Homo sapiens: one gene and its partners. The protein of the gene in region 3 interacts with the protein of the main gene of each other region in a pairwise test. Each region holds a gene or a part of one and is shown on either strand. Other genes may lie near its edges.

Region 1 (7,436 bases), on a different chromosome or scaffold from region 3:
ACAGGGTCTCACTCCGCTGCTGGGGCTGGAGTGCAGTGGCATGATCATGACTCACTGCAGCCTCCACCATCTGGGCTCAATCCATCCTCCCACCTCAGCCTCCCAAGTAGATGGGACTACACGTGTGTGCCACCATGCCCAGCTACTTTTAAAAATTGTATATAGAGATGGGGTCTCACTATGTTGCCCAGGATGGTTTCCAACTCCAGGGCTCAAGCAATTCTCCAATCTTGGCCTCCCAAAGTGCTGGGATTACAGGCATGACCTACTGTGCCAGGATGACTTCTATTTTCTAAAAGCAACTCTACTGGGAGACTTATGCTGAGGAAAGTATGTGGTTATCAGACTCAGTGCCCACGGTGGATGACTCTTAAAGTCTTTTTTTCTTCCTTTTCTTCTTTTGTTTTCTTTGTAGAGAAGGGATCTCGCTTTGTCACCCAGGCTTGAGTGCAGTGGCCTGATCACGGCTCACTGCACCCTTGACTTCCCGGGCTCAAGCGATCCTCCCAACTCAGCTTCCCCAAGTAGCTGGAATACAGGCATGGCTACCACGACTGACTAATTTATTTATTTATTTATTTATTTTAGATGGAGTTTCACTCTGTCGCTTAGGCTGGAGTGCAGTGGCACGATCTCGGCTCTCTGTAACCTCCGCCTCGCGGATTCAAACGACTCTCCTGTCTCAGCCTCCAGAGTAGCTGGGACTACAGGTGCATGCCACCACGCCCAGCTAATTTTTGTATTTTTAATACAGACAGAGTTTCACCATGTTGGCCAGGCTGATCTCCAACTCCTGACATCAGGTGATCCGCCCTTCTCGGCTTCTCAAAGTGCTGGGATTACAGGTGTGAGCCACTGCCCATGGCTAATTTTGTGTGTGTGTGTGTGTGTAGAGATGAGGTTTTGCCATGTTGCCCAGGATGGTCTCGAACTCCTGGGCTCAAGCGATTTGCCCGCCTCGGCCTCCCAAAGTGCTGGGATTACAGGGGTGAACCACCATGCCTGGCTGACTCCTATTAATACATTCCACCAAAACCATTATTTTATAAAAGATATTAGCAAATTTTGAGTTTATGTGCTTTGGCTAGTTTCTTTACTGCAGAAACTGGCTCCAGCCAAACCTCTGTTTAATTTAGAATTCCTTTCTCGGCTTTCCCTTTTTGTACGGCTAAAACTGAGAATGATCCACTGCATAGAGATGGAAAATAAGTGAGATAAGGTTGTGACATTTTAATAGCAACTGCTTAATCACATAAATTTTTCGTAATCTTAACTTTCAGCCTCTGTATTGTAACTTCTGTCAGCTAAGACTTTTCTGAGAATAACTCAACAGTTTCAAAATGTATTGTCCCATTCAAATCTTTGTCAAGAGCAGTACTACCTCTCTCACGATGTTGTTTCACATCTGAAAGTTAAATAATGCACAAATATCACTGCATCCTCCCAAACCAAAGGGAAAGGGGAGCATCTGCCAGCTCCACAAGATCCCAATTTGAAGTCCCCAAAGCTTTCCTCCAACTATATTCTAACTAGTCACAGACACTAAATCGTAGAACAGAAATGCACCTTTGAAAATTTTCAGTTCAACACCTCCATTGTACATATGGGGAAATCAGGACATAGGTTGTCAGATTTGACACCAACAAACAACACTGTGGACAAGACAAATCTCCAATCTCCAGGATCTATTGGTATACCCAAATAGCTTCGCCTTCCTTCAAAATTTTACCACCTTATCACTTGACGTTAGGAGTTCGAGGCCAGCCTCACCAATACCCATGTCTACTAAAAACACAAAAAAATAGCTGGGCATAGTGTAATCCCAGCTACAGGTAAAGACATGAGAATCGCTTGAACCTGGGAAGCAGAGGTTGCAGTGAGCCGAGATCGCCCCACTGCACTCCAGCCTGGGTGACAGAGCGAGACTCCGTCTCAAAAAAACACAAAACTACCACCTTAGCCCCCAACCTACTTTTCCACGCATCTTTCTCGTTATCCTTTAAACAGATTATTTCTCAGCCAAACAAACGTCGCTCTTTTTCTAGGTACAGCTTTCTTCTTGCTTCCACACCTATGTCAGAACAGTTATAGCCTCTTTATCCTCCCTTACCACTTAAATCCTACCCATCCTTTAGATTTATCCCCGTTTTCCAAACAATTCCTATTGGCTCAAACATTCTGCTTCGGAAGCCCTATTCTGACTTGGCAGGCCTATGGCAGTCTGTTAACTTGACTTTCCGCTTCGTGAGAGGCTTAGGCTCGGATAACCCGTTAGTAACCATGCAGAGGTGAGGACCCAAAGACAGGAACACTAGAAAGCAGAAACTATCCTAAGAGCCCACCGAATTTCCGCTTACATGAGTAACCGAGACAACCGTCAGATGCGCGTGCGCACAGGCCCCGTTCCCAGAGCTCCCCTCGCCCTACGAGGGCCCGGCGGGCCAAAACAGAGGCCCGCCCCGCCCCACCCCACGCCTCACCGCGAAGTAGCCCAGCCCCAGGACTGTGACCAGAGAGGGCAAGGGTCTTGCTGGACGGAAATAGGCGGTAGCCGCATTGCTGGCCTCCGACTTCACCATCCTCTTGAAAAACCCAGACACAGAGTTGGCTGGGAGCTCCCCAGCCGTCCCCGCCCCCATATAAGAAAAGCCTGGCTAGCCGGTTTCTCAGGGCCCTGGGCGCCCGCCCAAGACCCTGGCGGACCAGTATGCTTGCTCTCATTGCGGAGTCTGGTCCCCTCCCCTCCGCTCCTAGCGCGCGGGAGTCGGGATTGTGCTTGCACGACTTCCCCCGGCCCGCGGCCTGTGAGCCCAGGTCCTGGGGTGAACCGAGCGCTCGCTCGTTCGTCAGACCGTAGCGCTCCAGCGGCTGTCCTTACTGTGTAGTAGCCAAAGCTGAGGGTGATGACTGTGAACCAGAACAGACTGCCTCGCTGAAAGTAGGTCGCGCCGGCTGCCGTAGCCATGGCTGCAACACCTCCCCGGGAGCGCGCTTCAGGACACCGTCGAGCGCGAGCGCGGAGGCAGGGCCGGGGCCGGCCCGCGCTCCCTCGCCATCCCCGCAGGGAGAAGATGGTGCTGGTTGGGAAGTCCCTGAGAGCGAGTCTCCCTGTCTGGCCCCAGTACAGGGGCCTTGGAATCACACCTGGGCTCAGGTCTGGAGGGCTGGTCATCATCTTGTAGGGGAGACACTCCTGTCACTTTTCTGGGTTTAAGATAAAGATGTTCGGGCTGGCGCGGTGGCGTGTCCCTGTAATCTCAGCACGTTGGGAGGCTGAGGTAGAAAGATCCCTTGAGCCCAGGAGTTTGAGACCAGCCCGGGTAACATAGCTAGACTCTGTCTCGAATGAATGAATGAATGAATGAGGTGTTGGAATAAATTCCAGCAATTTGGGAGGCCGAGTCGGGCAGATCACTTGAGGTCAGGAGTTTGAGACCAGCGTGGTCAACATGGTGAAACCCCGTCTGTACTAAAAATACAAAAAATTTGCTGGGCGCGGTGGTGCCTGCCTGTAGTCCCAGCAACTCCAGAGGCTGAGACAAGACTCTCTTGAACCTGAGAGGTGCAGGTTGCAGTGGGCCCAGATCACGCCACTGCACTCCAGCCTGGGCAACACAGCAAGACCCTGTCTCAAAAAAAAAAAAAAAAGATGGTGTTTTACTAAGAGTCTAATTTTTGAAGTTCTCTGTGCTGTGCACCTTGAGAAATAATGCTGTCCTCATTAGTTAAGATGTTTGGAACTATACAGCACCATGGTTATGAGCAGGGACTGTGAAACAGGCTGCCTGGATTTAAGTCCTGGCTCTGTCTCGGCTATTTGTGTAAGCTTAGATTAATTACTTAGCCCGGCTGTGTCTTAGTTTCTGTATCTGTAACATGAGGATATGCCAGTTTTGGGAACCTCAGGGTTTTTAGGGTGGGTTAAATGAGTTGATATCTGTAAAGAAAGCACAGCAGTGTCTGGCCCATAGTGCTTTGTAAGTGTGGGTGATTATCAATACTGCTGAGCCTTTAGCATGTGTGCCAGGCCCTGTGCGAACTGTTGTATCATCAATGAGCTGTGGGAGGTATATGCAGCTGAAGTGTCTGATTAAACACTATTTAATCATAGAAATAGAAAATCATAGAAATAGAAAAACTATTTCACCTGGGCCTTAAAAATGGGTTACTGGCCAAGCGCAGTGGCTCAAGCCTATAATCCTGGCACTTTTGGAGGCCGAGGTGGGTGGATCGCTCAGGAGTTCGAGACCACCCTGGAGAACATGGTGAAACCCTGTCTCTACTAAAATACAAAAAATTAGCTGGGGGTGGTGGCGCGTGTCTATAGTCCCAACTACTTGGGAGGCTGAGGCACGAGAATTGCTTGAGCACCGGAGGCGGAGGTTGCAGTGAGCCGAGATCCAATCACTGCACTTCAGCTTGGGCTATAGAGTGAGACTCCGTCAAAAAAAAAAAAAAAAAGTTACTATACTGTAGCTGGTATTTATTGAACACCTACTATGTTCAAGGCATTGTTCTAAGTACTATACAATAATTAACTAATTTAATTCTTAAAACAATCCTAGGCAGTAAACTATTGTCCTTATTTCAAAGAAGAAGAAACAGCACAGGGTCCTGTCATGCCCAAGTGGGTGAGGAATACTGGAAAACAATTGGCAGCTGAGTGTTCCAGTTCCAGAGAGGGCACTCTGGAACCAACCAAGGTTCTCTTTCCTCATTTTTTACGTGAGTATCTTGGGATATAAAGTCTTAAAGAATGAATTTCAGAATATGTGAGGAAATCCATTTCCCAGGTAGACCACAGTGCTCTTGAATATCAAGATTAACAGTAACAATTGTAACAATTGGTGTTTTCTTAGTCCTTATCATCCTTGATCACACCACCCTCTTTATTCTTCTCCTCCTTCTGAATAACTCCTTGTTTTCTCAGCTTTCCTTTTCTTTCTTCTCTCCTAGAATAAGTTTTGCTTATTATCTTCTTTGTGTTTTCAGTACCTATCAGATTCAATTTTCACCTTCAGCTGACTAAAATAATCTCTTCAGCCCTCACCTCTTCCCAGTTGGTCACCTTTACCAAAGATTACTCACACCTCAAAGACAAGAAGTCCATTATCATTATCCACAGAGTCCATCCTCACCAAGGCTACCCTGTCTGTGGTTTTTTTTTTTTTTTTTTTTTTTTTTGAGATGGAGTTTTGCTCTTGTTGCCCAGGCTGGAGTGCAGTGTTGCGATCTCGGCTCACTGCAACCTCTGCCTCCCCACTTCAAGTGATTCCCCTGTCTCAGCCTCCTGAGTAGCTTGGATTACAGGTGTGCACCACCACGCTTGGCTAATTGTGGAGACGGGGTTTCACCATGTTGGCCAGGCTGGTCTCGAACTCCTGACCTCAGGTGATCTGCCTGCCTCGGCCTCCCAAAGTGTTGGGATTACAAGTATGAGCCACCTCGCCCGGCCTACTCTATGTGAACAGCACTTTCTTTCTACCTTGTACCCAGATTCCTTGCTTTGACTTCCCCCATATCATATAAAGATTGCAGACTAATCAGCTGTCAAGAGTTCTACTGATTGGGTAATACAATATCTAATCCTTCTAGATTAAATCATGGCTTCATCTCCACTGTCTCATGAGTCAGTCACTCCTTCCTACTTCCTGCCACTTCAGCCCACATGCAGTCCCTTTATTGAATCTGTCTGACAAATAACAGGATCATCTTTTTCAAGTACAGTTCTGATCAAGCCTTTACCATACCAAAACTTTTTTTTTTTTTTGAGACAGAGTCTCACTCTATTGCTCAGATTGTAGTGCAATGGCGCAATCTCAGCTCACTGCAACCTTGGCCTTCTGGGTTCAAGTGATTCTCCTGCCACACTCTCTCTAGTAGCTGGGACTACAGTCACATGCCACCACACCCAGCTAATTTTTTGTATTTTTAGTAGAGATGGGGTTTCGCCATGTTGACCAGGCTGGTCTCAAACTCCTGACCTCAGGTGATCCACCTGCCTTGGCTTCCCCAAGTGCTGAGATTACAGGTGTGAGCCACCATACCCAGCCTACCTTACCAAAAGTTTCAAGAACTTCCCCAATTTTAGGCTGCCGTTTTTCAGTATTTCTATTTAGGTATTAAATCTGCAACGAGGGAGATATTGGAGAAATTATTCATGCTACAAGAAATGTTGGAGAGGCAAAATGGCTTCAGTCAACAGACTACAGGGAGCTAGGTTTTAGTTTCATGTCTTCTACAACCCTGCTTGGAGCCCAGCCTGTTACTTAGTGTCCTATGTCTTCCAACTCCACACTATTTTTTTTTTTTTTAATAGAGACGGTGCTTCACTATGTTGCCCAGGCAGATCTCAAACTCCCAGCCTTAAGTAATCCTTCCACCTCAGCCTCCCAAAGTGCTGGGATTATAGTTAGAGGCTGTACCTGGCCACCAACAGCTCAACACTAAACATCTTACTGTTAGCCCCTCACGCACAGATAAGGAATCCAGAAGACAGTACCAGAAGATCTTTGTTCAGATGTGAGTAGTTTATGTAAATTCATGAAGAACTTACAGTCAACTGGATGTTCAGAAGGCATTCCTTTCTTCATTACAGTCACCCTTCACACACGGCAGGGGTGACTGAATTCTCTAAGGTCCAGGCACCCTACACTGCTGTCCCATCTGAATTGGCAGAGAAATATCTCATCCCTGGACATTTTTATCCCCCTGTCTAGATGGATTAGTGACCTAAATATGAAAAATAATGAAGAAAGTCTGGGAGAATAGTTTTACAACTTTTGAGGGAGGGGAAGGAAACCTTTTAGCAAGTTATTAAAATTAAAAGCCATAGAAGGAAAGATTGAAAATTTAACTGCATCCAGATGAAAAGCTTCATTCATATGAATGACACTGTAAATAAAGTTGAAATACCTGGAAGAAGGAATTCTCCAATATATGTAATTGACAAATGATTAAAGGATATGAATTGGGCATCCTCAAAAGAGAAAACTTGAGACCAAGCAAAATGAAAGGATGGTTCAATCTTAATGGCCCTATGGGATACGCAAAATAAAGCAAAAATAACATTGTTTTTCCTCATAAGATTGGCCTACTAGATATCAAGACACACTGTAAAGAGCTATAATAATGTAAAACATTTGGCACTTGACATGCAGAAATCAACAAATGGATCAATGAAAAAATAATGCAGACTCCAGACATGGATCTGGTATATACATATCCAAGCGTTTATTTTATAATAAAGGTAACATTTCAAATTAAGGAAGGAATAATGGATTATTCAGTAAATTATTTTGGGGCAATTAGTTATCTATTCCAGAAAAAATATTTTAAATAATACTGTCCACTCCCAAACACAAATACACAAATGATGCAGTATCAAGAGATACAGAGGTATTAATAAGTAGTCCTCCTTGGGGAGTTATGATGAG
Region 2 (7,022 bases), 4.7 Mb from region 3:
AGAATACTTTAGAAAATTCTACAACTCTCTGCTTCATACTAACACTGTCTTGCCAGAGTGCAACTCTAGTGTTTTCAGAGTCGGTTTATGGCCTAACCCTGTTCTGAAGGCAATGCCTGATATAGAAAGCAGGCCCAACTCATCAAATGTTGCTTTCGTTTTCCTGGGTCCAGGGCTAGAGCCTCGGGTACTGGACCAAGCCTCTGCCATAAATCTGAACAATTCATAAACACATACACATACAGCCTCAAGAAACTCAATAAGCAGTGAAAGCAGAGTTTCTTGCCACAGTTAGAACTCAAGAACACTACTTCCTTCTCCTCCCATCTCTGCTCCAGAGCATAAATAACACAGTTAGTGTTTATAAAAAGAGGTTAAAATGCAACTCATTCAAACTGCCAGTAATTACAAAACTGATCTCTTAAATTCTAAATGTTTAGTGAGCATCAGCGATTTTGCCTCTAATTGCTTTACCTAGGACTCCCAGTTGGACAGAATGCCTTACCTCGCCGCCCCGGAGGCTCTGGACAGCAGCACACACAGCAGCAGCACTGCCACCCAGAGCAGGGCTAAGATGAACACGCCCGCACCGACTCCGAGCACAGTGCCAGCCATCCCGCGGGGAGGCAGCGGCGGCCCCCCGCCCTGCGCGCCGCACGATCGAGTGTCCTCTGTGCTCCAGTGCAACACACTCCCGTGAAAGCATTCAGACAAATACAGAAAGCCTAAACTCATTACAGGTTATTTTTTGATGATCAGTGTGTTAGGAGGATTACTCAGTACAGGTCATTAATTTTCAGAAATGTCCAGTCCCAGAGTCCCTTAATGGAAACTGGAAATTTAGAACCCAAAGCCTTTCTCTTTGGTGGGGACTGAGAGGGTGTTTTCCGCTCTGCGCTCAGAAGTTTTTTCTGAGTGTTTCCTTTCAAATTTGGTACCTGAGTTCTACTTTGACCTCTTCCCCCAGCCCACGGGAGAAAGCTGAACCCTCTCTGAATATAAAACCCTACCTAAGAACTGGTAGAAGACACCAGGGCATGGGAACTCCAGGGCCAAAGCAGAAGTTGAAGCTCTCAGGTTAAATCCATGGTGTGAGCTGTGACTCACCAGGCAATGGATCACAAGACAGAAAGTTCCCACTCTGTTGTCGAGTTCTTATTCAAGAGGATGAAAACTCCCAGTCCTTAAAGAAGAGGAACAGCCATCACTATTTTTGAACATTCACTGTGTGCTAAGTGCCGTACAAACATATCTCATTGAATCCCGGAGCGAAGCTTCTGAGAAAGGTATTACTATAGCCATGTTACAGGATGGGTAAGTGAGATATAAGCGCGATGGGGTATCTATTAGTTTCCTAATTAGCAGCTCAAAATAGAAATTTATTTTCTCACAGGCCAGCAATCCAAAATAAAGGTGTCAGCAGGGCTGTGCTCCCTCCAAAGGCTCTAGGGCAGGGGTCCCCAACCCCTGGGCCATGGACTGGTACTGGTCCATGGCCTTTTAGGAACTGGGCCGCACAGGAGGAGGTGAGCAGCAGGCAAGCCAGCCTTACCACCTGAGCTTCGCCTCCTGTCCTATCAGTGGCAGCGGCATTAGGTTCTCACAGGAGCACGAACCCTAGTGTGGACTGCACGTGCGAAGCATCTAGGTTGCAGGCTCCTTATGAGAATCTAATGCCTGAAGATCTGAGGTGGAACAGTTTCATCCGGAAACCACCCCCCTGCATCCCCCTGTGGAAAAACTGTCTTCCATGAAACCAGTCCCTGGTACCAAAAAGATTGGGGATCAGTGCTCTAGGGGAGAATCTTTCCCTGCCTCTTCCATCTTCTGGTAGCTCCAGGCACCATTCACTGGCTTTTAACTCACAACTCCAGTCTCTGCCTCCATCTTCCCATGGCATTCTCCTGTGTCTGTCTTCACATTTTCTGTCTCTTATAACGGTACTTGTCATTGGATTTAGGGTCTGTACAAATAATCTAGTATTATCTTGAGATGCTTAACTTAATTAAATCTGCAAAGACCCTTTTGTCAAACAAGGTCATGGTCACAGATTCCAGGGGTGAGGATGCGGACATATATTTTTGGGGACCACCATTCAACTCACAGCAGAGGAACAGCACACCACACTACCTCTCCTGGTTTTCCTTTTCAGCATTGGAGACAAGTCTTAAGCAAACACATTCCTCTAGGTTGCTGGTTTTCTTTACCCTTATGGTTTAAATACCACGAAAATATTAGCTATGAGAAGTTATAAAGTTATTGGAAAGGAGGGTCTAAGCATGAACTGGTAAAAAAAATACGTTTATTGAATCAACATTTATGATGTTCCCACCATGTAAAGCACTGCGCTACAAGCTGGGGATGCCAAAGGTGAATAAGATATCTTCTGACAGAAGCTCAAGGTCTATTGGAGAACATTGTCCTGAAAACAAGTGTCCATATTACATTCTGATTAATGGTAAAAGCGAAGTGCAGTGGGAACTGCAATAGTGAGAGGGGCTTTACAAAGGAAATACTCTGCACAGGCACATTTAGGAAAGAATCAGAGTGAAAAGATGACAGAGTGAGGGGAGATGGGACCTGGGGCCCACCTGCATGCCTAACTTCTCTGGGGAGCAGTCTGCCCTCATTAGGGCCACATGGGCGCCATCTCGGTCACTCTAACACGCCCGGGGTTTCCCCATCTCTGGGTCTTTGTACTTGCTGTTTCCACTGCCTGGAACTAGCCCTCAACCCCAAGCACTCCTGCTACTATTTGTAGGACTGGCTTTCCTCAGCCTTCTGATTTCTGCTTAAATGTCACTCTTCAGTGAGGTCTTCCCCGAGTGTCTTCTCTAAAGTAACCCCTCAAACACTGACTCTCCATCACTCTATTTCCTTCAGAGCATTTTTCACAAAACTAGTTAATATTTTCATTTATTTGTTTACAAGTTTATTTTCTGTCTGTCCAACTAGAATAGTAAACTCCACGAAGGCAGAGACCTGATATCTTTCTCACTGTGGTAACCCCAGTTCTTAGCACAGAGATTATGCACAACAAGTATCTGTGGGAGGAATAAATGACACAGTGCTAACAAGTCCACAAACATCAGGTGAGGGAGTGAAAGGATCATATGGAGTTTTAGAAAGATGACTGTAACCTCTGGTCAATATGCTGGATGGAAGTTAACAAGGGAAGTGCCTCATACAACAGCAAACACATAAATGTTCAATAAAATAGAACAAGAAGAATTTAGTACACAGCAGAGCTCGAAAGCAATAAAGAAAAATCATTAAGTGCTATAAAAAAATGTAACTCAAGGCCTGAGCTGAGCCTAAAAGTCTACGAGGGTCCTGGTGCCTGATACAGACCTTCAGGGTGATTCTCTTCAGGGCAGATAAGGTCTCAAGCCCACGATGGCAAAGAACTAGCAATGAGAACAATGCAGAAAGCTGGGCCCTCACAGGATTGACCAGTTTTTGAAATAGGGTCTAAATAATTTGCTACTGACTTAGTTGGAAGGAAGCTGGCTGAGTGCTTCAGGCCACAGGTCAAAAAACAACAGCCCAAGAGAAATCTGAATCCCCACCTCACATCATATCCATGTGTGAGATTCAATACTACCGATGTGATATGGGAATCCCAAATAGAAAGATTAACATGAAAACTAGACTAAAAGTGAGAACCCATTGGATCCCAGCAGAGACAAAACTAAACCCACAGGCTGGCATGCAAGACTCCCTCAAGAGTAAGTGTAAAACAAAGATGTTTTCAGACATACAAAGGGTGAAATGTAGTACACCTCTCAAGGATCCTCAGTGAAAGGGCTACTCAGAGACATACTTCAGCAAGAAGGAAAATGAACCAAGAAAGGAGGTATGAGATACAGGAAGCATGGTGAGAAAATTATTAAGAAATATTGACAGTAAAGATTTCTGTAATAATGACAATTTTTGAGGGGTTAAAAATCAGAAAGGACTAAATATTACTCAACAGTTATATGGTAGATGGAAAAGGATAGTTCAAAGTTAAAGCATTCTACAGTGATTTTGTTTTGGAGGAGGTATATGTTTTTTAAGCTAAGTACACAAGTTAAAAAAACATACAGGTAAACAGCAAGCAACAGAAATAGAAAAAATAGCTTCTATACTAGTAAAGTGAAAAAAAAATAAAGAAAACAGAAAGTGGGGCAAGGGTCAGTGGGTGTGAGGTGGGTGGCAGAACAAAGAATACGCAAGGAAAATGGAAAATACAAAATAAGATTGTAAAAATAAACCCAAATACAACAGTAATCATAGTACATGGAAACATTATATTTGACTACTAAAAGAAATTCTCTTAGATTTTTCTTTTTAAAAATAGCTGTGTACAAAAGCTCTACAGAAAGTATAATGAGAGGCTGAAAATAAAGAGATTGAGAAAGACATGCAAAGCAAATATTAACAAGACAAAAACCAGGGAAGGAGGGAATAGGGAGATGGTGAATGAGTATAGAGTTTCAGTTTTGCAAGATGAAAGCATCTTGGAGCTCTGTTTCACAACACTGTGAATATACTTAACACTGCTGATCTGCACTCTTAAAAATGGTTAAGACAGGAAATTCTGTTTTTTTGTTTTTGTTTTTGTTTTTTTATAAGCCACAGTTGAAAAAAAACCAAGTGAAACAAAATAAAATATAAGCTATGAAGCAATATTAGTACCACGCAAAACAGATGTAAAGCTCTGAAAAATATTAAGAACAGTGACAAAAGGAACCATTCAGTAAAAAGATACAACCTGAAACAAATGTGAACCTAACAACAAAACCTCCAAATATATAAAGCCAAAACTGACAGAAGTACTACAATAAATGTATAAAACCACTAATTTAGCAGGAGATTTTAATATATGTCTCAGAAACTGATAGATCAAGCAGATAAAAAAAGAATAAACACTTGAGAAAGAGGATACCTGAATGAGAATAAATATGTAAAAAGGTGCTCAACTTCATTAGTCATCCGGAAATTGCAAATTAAAACCAAATTCAGTGCCTTCATATACCCACCAGAATGGCTAACATGAAAACAACAGACAACAGCAAGTGTTGACAAAGATGTGGAGTAACTGGAACCCTCATATACGGCTGGCAAGGGCCATAATTTGTTAACCACTGCTTTGGAGACTATTGGCAGTATCTAATAAAGCTAAATATAAATGCATCCTACATCCAGCTCTTCTATTCTTAGGTGTATTCCCAACAGAAACGCACACCTAAATTCAAAAAAAAGACATTGCAGCCCTACCTGAAATAGCTAAAACCTTAAACAATCCAAATATCTGCCAATAGAGTGGATATAGTACTCTACAATCTATTCATTCATACAGTATATAAAGCATTATGTAGTATAAAGCAATGAGAATAGTATAAAGCAATGAGAAAGAACACACTACAACTATACTCAACAATGTGGATGAATTTCACAAATATTAAATGAAAAAAGCTAGAGGCTAAAGAGTTCATAGTATATGAGTCCATTTATATAATGTTCAAAACAGGTCAAACTAATTTTAGGGGCTGGAGGTCAGGCGTATGGTTGGCTTGTGAAACATAGTGACTGTAGGAGGTTCAGGGAGATGCTGATAAAATTCTGTTTCTTGATCTGGGTTTTGTTCACCTGGGTTTGTTCATACGGTGATGTTGTATCTAACCATGCACTTAGGATTTATATACTTTTCTGTATGTGTATTACCCTTCACTAAAATGTTTACAGAAAGAATATTAAGAGATGTATCAGCCATGTGTAGTATATGGACCCTTATTTGGTCCTGATTCGAACGAAGCATTGCAAAAACCTTTTATGAAATGATTGGGGAAATCTGAAGAATATTCAGATATTTGATAATATTATGAAATTACTGTTTGTATTTTCAGTGAAAAAACACTATTAAAAAGATGATATTATTATATTGTTAAAAGATTATTTATGATAAAGATATATGCATACACACGTAGCACATTACAGATAACAGAAAAGGGTTTCTAGGAGCTTTCTATTACCTCAGTGAGAGGAGGTGAAGGGGCTGACATGAAACAAGACTGGTCATGAGCTAGTTGTTGAAGCTGGGTGATGAGTGTGTAGATGTTTGCTAGCCTATTTTCTATATTTCTGAATATATTTTAAACTTTCATAATAAAAAGATGTGGATATGTGTGTATATATATATATATATCTGCATAAATATGAATATAAAAGATGAGTAAGATTTGTATAGCTAAAATTATAAAACTTTATCAAAGACAAAAAAAAAAAAAAGAGAGAGAGAGGACCTGAATAAAGAAATAAAGCAGACCTGAACAGAGAAATAACCTGTGTTCCCGGATGGGATGGTTCAATTAAAAAAATCTCAATTTTCCTTAACCTATAAATTCAATGCAATCCTAACCAAAGTCTAAAAACAATTTTTTGTGGAACTTGAAAACGGATCCTAAATTCATATGGAAGAGCAAAAACCCAAGAATAGCCAAAACAATTTTGAGAACTAGGATGGCAACTTGCCTTTCTTGTTACCAACTGCCGCAAGACACATTGAAAAACCAAAGTAATTAAAACAGTGTGATAGTGGCACAAAGACACATGGCCCAGTGGTATAAAATCAAGAACCCAGAAACAGATCCATGCATTTGTGAGAACTTCCTACAGCACAGAGTTGGCTTTATGATTCAATGGGTAAAGAACTTCATAGATAGTGTTGGGACAAATGATTCTCCAATAGGAAAAGAATAAAACTAGATCTCTATATGATATACAGAAGTTGATTTTAAATGGAAAGTAATTCGTAATGAAATAGCATATGTTTAAATATACAAATGTTCAGGCTGACTACACTAGAATACATAATGAAGTACAGTAGTCAGATGCTTGCACCTAAACTTAGAATCACCATGAATGCAAAAGCTTCAAATGCAGACTATGCAGGTGTGTTGTTCTGGCAACTCAAATACCACGAGCTGTGCTGCCTTCAGTTATGTGATTTGCTAGAGTGATGAACAACTCTTGTTAAA
Region 3 (7,774 bases):
CTTAAATCCGGTTTTCTTCCTTGAAAAACCACAAGATTGGACTTGACAATCTTTAAGGTTATACTCAGCTCTAAGATATTTTTGTAATTATATGGAACAAAGATGGGCATGAAATATACCAAACGAGAGAGTTTCTAAATTTAGATTCTGATAATTCAAGTCAGAAAACATATTAAGTGTTCGGGAAAAACAAATCACAATCTTCCATCACAAAATTCAACAAGAACAACAAAAACCACTCCAGAGGCAGCTGTGGTATTCTGGAAGGAATGTTGGTTTGAGTTCTGGCTCTGCCATTTAATTACTGGCTAACCCTGGACCACATACACAATATCTCTGTTTCCATCTCCTCATTTTTGAAATACGGATTCTAATCTGACCTGAACAGTGCTGTTTACAAACATCGCCTTGTGCTCTATAAAGCCCCATTATGATTTCAACAACCAGCAAGATAATGGCTTATGATATCTAAGTCCTGGCAAGGAGAATGCGGGTGTGTACCTTGCTATATTCAGTTGAACTCTGCATCACATACAGAAGGCTGATAGACCTTTTAGCTTTCCTTTTTCCTCCAGTAGTGTAGCTTGTGGCCATTTAAGTTTTACACAAGAGAATAGAAAAGAGAGATAAAATTTGCTAAAATTCAAATAGTCTATTTGTGTTTGTTTCTAGCCTCAGTGAAGGTTTTGGGGAGAGGGGTAGCTGGTTAAAAGAGTAGAAGCTTAAGAGTTCAAAGAAAGTGTGAGGAGGACAGCACTCACCTGTGGCCTCTAATTGTTCATATTCAGTATGGTCTCATACTGGGAATAATCTAGTGTTTGTCTTATGATCTTTCTATAGAAACAAATATGGAATGTGTCTATAAGTACCATTAGTTGATGACACACTAGTGACTTTAATTCTCTTACAGTAAAAAGTTTTGCAATAGCAAGGACTTTGGCTAGGGGAGTGACTCTATGTGTGGTGAAACTGTCCTCACCCATTTTTCATTTGAGGAAAAGAGATAATCTTTTGATTACACCCAACACAGGTAACATCTGTACTTTGAACAGTTAAGTATAGCAGCTGATGTTTAACTGCAGGTAGGGGGGAGATGAGAAACAGAAATAACTGGTGCCAAATGTGAGATTCAATTACCTCGACCATCACAACCAACATCAACCAGAAGGGTGTGGGAGGAACTCATGGAATAAATGGGAACAGGTGTGGCCTGAGGATAAGTAAGTGGGGGCACTGTTTCCATCTTCATGAAGATGTGAGAGGAAATCAAAGCTCTTTAAAAAGAAGGAAATGGAATGCTTGGCTCCTGTAATATCAGAACAAATAATGCACAGCCAGAGGTCATGCCTCACCTTCTGCTTATCTCAGTCACCTCCACTTGTAAAATCAGTGGGCCATATTCAATAAAACCTTCATATCAGTTCCATATCTTTTCCCAGAAACCCCAGGAACAGAGGGAGCCAATATCCTTATTAAACCAAGAAGCTCACTGTCACAAAGAGCTAAGTCTGACGCCCCTGGGCCCCTACCTAACCACGTGTCCTGATTCTTTCCATAACTTCCCACTGCACAACATCCAGGTTATACTGAAGATATTACACATCTGGTTAAAAACAGTACACGTCTCTCATGAACAATAAGCCATCCTTTCTATTAAAATGAGTGTAAAATTGCAGGTAAAATGCTGTAGGCAGGCCTGTTTGGAAGGCTATGCGACCCTAGGAGACAAAAAGGTGCAGGAGGAGGAAAAGGGCAGACACCGCAGAAAGCGGTCGAAGAGAACGTGAAAGAAGTGGCCATTTCTAGCTGGGCGCGGTGGTTCACGCCTGTAATCCCAGCACTTTGGGAGGCTGAGGCGGGTGGATCATGAGGTCAGGAGATCGAGACCATCCTGGCTAACACGGTGAAACCCCGTCTCTACCAAAAAAAAAAAAAATACAAAAAATTAGCCGGGCGTGGTGGCGGGCGCCAGTAGTCCTAGCTACTCGGGAGGCTGAGGCAGGAGAATGGTGTGAACCCGGGAGGTGGAGCTTGCAGTGATCCGAGATTGCGCCACTGCACTCCAGCCTGGGCGACAGAGCGAGACTCCGTCTCAAAAAAAAAAAAAAAAAAAAAAAGAAGTGGCCATTTCTGCAACTTTTAGGAGAGCTACCTGCCCTCAAATTTTGAAAGGGTTTCTATTTCTTAAAGTGCTACGTTTCCCTGGCTGAAACTCACATCTTTCTTCCCTCTAGGGCTGGATCAAAGCTTCAGAGGTTGTTTCTCTGGCCCTAGACAGGGCCACCCCCGCAAATTTCTCCCCCACTGCGCCTGACATCCGCTTCCATCCATGGCTCCATTAACGGAAGCTAAGCACTGGCTCGGGGGACTTTATCCACCGCCCGGTGTTATTAGATTCCAGGCTTCCTGGCCTCAGGAAAGGATCTGGCTCGTGTATTTGTGTATCGCAGCTAACAAGGAAAGGCAGTCGGTACCAGTGCCCAGAGCTATGTGAGCTGTGACTGGTCACAGCCCAGGAGCCAGATGGCATCCCCGGGGGCGCGCGTCCCCGGACTCACCGGGCAGACGGAGGCCCGGGGCTTCACACCTTCCCCTCACCGGGCAACGCGGCAGACCTGACTCGCGGGGGACTGAGCAATATTCGTTCCAGGGCCGCGGCCAGCCGGACAGAGGCACTCGGGGGCGGTGGGAGTAGTGTGCGCACCGGTTCCGCAGCCCGGAGGGGGCCCCAGCTGGGCTTCCGCGACACCAGGGCCCTCCATCCCCTCCCGTCCTCCCCTAGCGCAGCCTTCACCCCTGTCCCAGAGCCCCTCCCTGTCCGCGTCCCCTCCCCCGCAGGTCCCCTGCGAGTCGGAACCTCCTCTCCATCACAGCCCCGCTCCTTGGCGGGGCCCCCTCTCCCTTCGAGCCCTCCTCCAGGTTCGAGCCCCCTGCGGGTACGGACGTCTGACCTGTGCCCAGCGCCTCGCAGCCGTCTGCAGCCCGCGCCGCGCGCCAAGTGCGTCCGCCCAGAAGCAGGTGCAGCTCCAGGCCCGCCCCGCCCCGCTGCGCCCCGCCCCGCTCCACTCCGCCAGGCCTGGCAGCCGCCAGCCCCTTTCCACCCTTGACCGCCCTTCCCGGTCCCGGCCAGCGTGCGGGGCATCTGTCGTCAGGTCCGCACTTCCTCCAGGCCTTTGACTTTCCCGTGGAGATGTCTCTGGCCTCAGGAACTCCCTAAGCTGTGTGCTTCAGGAGAGGCTGGTTCCTGAGTCACCCAAGAGGACTGCAACCAACCTGGACCTCCTGAGATGCAAAGAGATCGCAGGGCCTGGGAGGCGGCGAGGACCCTGAGAACAGGCTGTGGCTCCGAAGAGTGTTTGTTACCAAGCCAGGCAACCACTGCGAACACACCGCAGAAACAGCCACGGATCACCGTCCAGCAAAGGAAGAAGGTGCCAACGGTCCATCAGGGACCACAACCCAGTTTTTTTAGTTTAAGTTTGGTGGCTAAGTTTGAGTGTCACATAGTTCATTCATTCCTTCATTCATTCAACAAATCTGCCATGTTCCCATCTGATAACAGATCTGACAGGTGGGCACTGTTCTAGGTGCTGGCGATAGAGCTAAGAAGGAAACAAAGTTCCTGTCCCGGAGAAGGGGGCTACCTGCTGAGGAGAGCATGACTTTCTTTGTGGTATTGTGCTGTGGCAGCAGGGTCCTCTTCTGTAAGCTACTGAGAGGTGAAACCCGCTGGGCTTCTGGGTCGGATGGGGACTTGGAGAACTTTTCTGTCTAGCTAAAGGATTGTAAAAGCATCAATCTGCACTCTGTGTCTAGCTAAAGGTTTGTAAACACACCAATCAGCACTCTGTAAAAATGCACCAATCAGTGCTCTGTGTCCAGCTAATTGGTGGGGACTTGGAGAACTTTTCTCTCTAGCCAAAGGATTGTAAATGCACCAATCAATGCTCTATGTCTAGCTAAAGGTTTGTAAACACATCAATCAGCACTCTGTAAAAACGGACCAATCAGCACTCTGTAAAATGGACCAATCAGCACTCTGTAAAATGGACCAATCAGCGCTCTGTAAAATGGACCAATCAGGAGGATGTGGGCAGGACCAATCAGGAGGATGTGGGCGGGGCCAATGAGGGAATAAAAGCTGGCCATCCGAGCCAGCGGCAGCTGCGTTTGGGTCCCCTTCGATGGTGTTGGGGTTTTGTTGTTTCGCTCTTTGCAATAAATTTTGCTGTTGCTCACCTTTTAGGTCCACACTACCTTTATGAGCTTTAACACTCACAGTGAAGGTCTGCAGGTTCACTCCTGTAAACCAGCGAGACCAGGAAGCCACCACAAGAAACAACTCTGGAGCCGCCACCTTTAAGAGCCATAACACTCACTGTGAAGGTCTGTGGCTTCACTCCTGAAGTCAGCGACACCACGAACCCACAGGGAGGAGCAAACAACTCCAGACGCACCACTTTTAAGAGGTGTAACACTCCCTGCGAAGGTCTGTGGCTTCACTCCTGAGGTCGGCGAAACTACGAACCCGCTGGGAGGAAGGAACAACGCGGATGCGCCACCTTTAAGAGCTGTAACACTCCCTGCGAAGGTCCGCGGCCTCACTCATCAAGTCGTGCATAGACCACGAACTCTCTAGAAAGAAAAAACTTCGGACACACCTGAACATTTGAAGGAACAAACTCCGGACACACCATGTTTAAGAACTATAATGCCGTGAAGGTCCGCGGCAGGACCGGGACCAGGAACTCTTCAGAGGGAACCAATTCCGGATACACAGCTTCGTGGAATGGTTCTGCACTGTGTGTGTGTGTGTTTCCCGTCAACCCTGTGCACACTATTAGAAGAACACAAGCGTTAAGGCTCCCTCTCAGTCCTGCCGGTAAGAATCCAGGGCTGATGCACCTATTAAAAGCTTCTCAGGAGGCCTGGGGAAGTGGGGGTTGAGAACCACGGGTCTAGATCTCTAAGATGCCTGGCAGCTTATTCCACTGTTGAGGGCACTGGCAATCAGGAAGGGCTTCATGGAAGAGATGTTTGCATTTGGGTTTTAAAGCAGGGCCACAGCTAGATATTAGCAGTGCAGAAGGACACGGGATCCGACGGGCAGCCTGTTGACCAAATGGCTCCGTTTTTATAAAGTCAAAGAACATCACTGTGAAGGATAAGGCATTAACTGGAGCAGACCTTTCCCTGGTAAAACAGAGCGAATGGGATCTGGTGGGAGGTGGTAATGGCCAAGAGGTAGTGCCGTCAGTGAAAAGCGTCATGGAGTCGTGCACCTTACAGGGAGGATGGGCCGCAGCCAGGAGCTGAGAGGGCATCTTTTAAATTTGCCGTCAGCTCAGGAACTTAATCACACATCTCATCCTAGCCCTTGCTCACACCCATTGTTTTAGAAATCGTTGATAGAGTGGAGTCCTGGATGCCTGTTACTCTGGGAGAGGCTGTCCTCTGTCACCAGATCCCTTTTATGGACAGGCATTTTCTTTAGTAATATTTACCTTGTCTACGATGATGAAACAAAGGTGTGACCTCTTAATTGTATAGTTAATGGTGAGTAGAGATGCTTTTTTTTTTTTTACTTTTTATTTTTGAGACAGTTTTGCTCTTGTTGCCCAGGCTGGAGTGCAATGGCGCGATCTCGGCTCACCACAACCTTGGCCTCCTGGGTTCAAGTGACTCTCGTGTCTCACTCTCCTGAGTAGCTGGGATCACAGGCATGCGCCGCCATGCCCAGCTAATTTTGTGTTTTTAGTAGAGTCGGGGTTTCTCCATGTTTGTCAGACTGTTCTTGAACTCCCGACCTCAGGTGATCTGCCCACCTCAGCCTCCTAAAGTGCTGGGATTAGAGGTGTGAGCCACCTCGCCCGACGGAGATGCTTCTTAATATTAAAAAATCTAAACAAAATAATTTCTGCTTCAAATTATAATAACCAGGTACCAGGACAAAACCAATTTTTTGTTGTGTGTGTGTGTGTGTGTTTGAGACGGGCTCACTTTGTTGCCCAGGATGAAGTTCAGTGGTGCAATCATAGCTCACTGTAGCCTCGACCTCCAACGCTCAAGAGATACTCTTGCCACAGCTTCCTAAGTAGCTGGGACTACAGGTGTGCATCAACACGCATGGCTAATGTTTACATTTTTAAAAATTGCAATAGTTTTTGGGGAACAGGTCATTTTTTTGTTACATGGATAAGTTATTTAGTGGTGATTTCTGAGATTTTTGTGTACTCATCACCTGAGCAGTGTACACTGTACCCAATGTATAGTCTTTTATCCCTCACCCTCCTCCCACTTTCCCTTGAGTCCCCAAAGTCCATTATATATATATATATATATATATATATATATATATATGTATGTATGTATGTATTTTTTTTTTTTTTTTGAGACAGTCTTGCTCTGTCGCCCTGGCTAGAGTGCAGTGGCGCAATCTCAGCTCACTGCAACCTCTGCCTCCCAAGTTCAAGCGATTCTCCTGCCTCAGACCTCTGAGTAGCTGGGACTACAGGCGCGTGCCACGACGACTAATTTTTTGTATTTTTAGTAGAGACAGGGTTTCACCATGTTAGCCAGGATGGTCTCAATCTCCTGACTTCATGATCCGCCTGCCTTGGCCTCCCAAAGTGCTGGGATTACAGTTGTGAGCCACTGCACCCGGCCCATTATATCATTCTTATGCCTTTGCATCCTCATAGTTCAGCAAACCCTTATAAGTGAGAACATACACGATATTTGGTTTCCCATTCCTGAGTTACTTCACTTGGAATAGTGGTCTCCAACTCCCGTACAAATTGCTGCAAATGCCATTACTTCAGTCCTTTTTATGGCTGAGTAGTATTCCATGGTGTAAATATATCACATTTTCTTTATCCACTTGTCAGTCGAGGGGCATTTAGGCTGGTTCCATATTTTTGCAATTGTGTATTTTGCTCCTATAAACATGCAGATGCAAGTGGCTTTTTCATATAATGACTTCTTTTCTTCTGGATATATACTCAATAGTGGGACTGCTGGATCAAATGGTAGTTTTACTTTTAGTTCTTTAAGGAATCTCCATAAAGTTTTCCACAGTGGATGTACTAGTTTATATTCCCACCATCAGTGTAAAAGTGCCCTTTTCATCACATCTATGCAAACATCTACTATTTTTTGACTTTGTAAATTATGGCCAGTCTTGCAGAAGTAAGGTGGTATTTCATTGTGGTTTTAATCTGCATTTCCCTGATAATTAGTGATGTTGAGCATTCTTTTTCATGTGTTAGTCATTTGTGTATCTTCTTTTGAGAACTGTCTATTCATGTTCTTTGCCCACTTTTTGATGGGATTATTTCTTTTTTTCTTACTGATTTGAGTTCCTTGTAGATTCTGCATATTAGTCCTTTGTAGGACGCATAGTTGAATATTTTCTCCCATTCAGTGAGGTGTCTGTTTACACTGCTGATTATTTTGCTGTGCCGAAGTGTTTTCATTAGGTAATATCTATTTATTTTTGTTTTTGTTAGATTTGCTTTGGGGTTTTTGGTCTTAAAATCTTTGCCTAAGCCAATGTCTAGAAGAGTTTTTCCAGCGTTATTTTCTAAAGTTTTTATGGTTTCAGGTCTTACATTTAAGTGTTTGATCCATCTTGAGTTGATGTCTGTATAAGGTAAGAGATGAGGATCCAGTTTCATTCTTCTGTATGTGGCTAGACAGTTATCCCAGCACCATTTGTTGAATAGGGTGCCCCTTCCCTATTTGTGTTTTTGCTTTCTTTGTTGAAGATGAGTTG

What was found. Proteins that work in one complex are often made in the same cells at the same time.
Region 1: the proteins of TMEM45B (region 3) and TMEM254 interact in binary tests that used the Homo sapiens proteins (3 or more experiments, as listed by UniProt).
Region 2: the proteins of TMEM45B (region 3) and TMEM218 interact in binary tests that used the Homo sapiens proteins (3 or more experiments, as listed by UniProt).

What each region holds. Positions count from the first base shown.
Region 1 is NC_000010.11:80,074,229-80,081,664, reverse strand, and holds the start of TMEM254 (transmembrane protein 254), read right to left. Parts: upstream 3,001-7,436; 5' UTR 2,966-3,000; coding exon 2,879-2,965; exon of another isoform or gene 2,640-2,878; coding exon of another isoform or gene 2,481-2,639; exon of another isoform or gene 2,472-2,480; intron 2,421-2,471; exon of another isoform or gene 1,985-2,420; coding exon of another isoform or gene 1,973-1,984; intron 26-1,972; coding exon of another isoform or gene 1-25.
Region 2 is NC_000011.10:125,101,627-125,108,648, forward strand, and holds part of TMEM218 (transmembrane protein 218), read right to left. Parts: intron 1,184-7,022; 5' UTR 1,108-1,183; exon of another isoform or gene 1,040-1,107; coding exon of another isoform or gene 1,011-1,039; intron 726-1,010; exon of another isoform or gene 692-725; coding exon of another isoform or gene 616-691; coding exon 506-615; intron 1-505. UniProt on the Homo sapiens protein: May be involved in ciliary biogenesis or function.
Region 3 is NC_000011.10:129,811,076-129,818,849, reverse strand, and holds the start of TMEM45B (transmembrane protein 45B), read right to left. Parts: upstream 3,003-7,774; 5' UTR 2,952-3,002; exon of another isoform or gene 2,559-2,951; intron 1-2,558.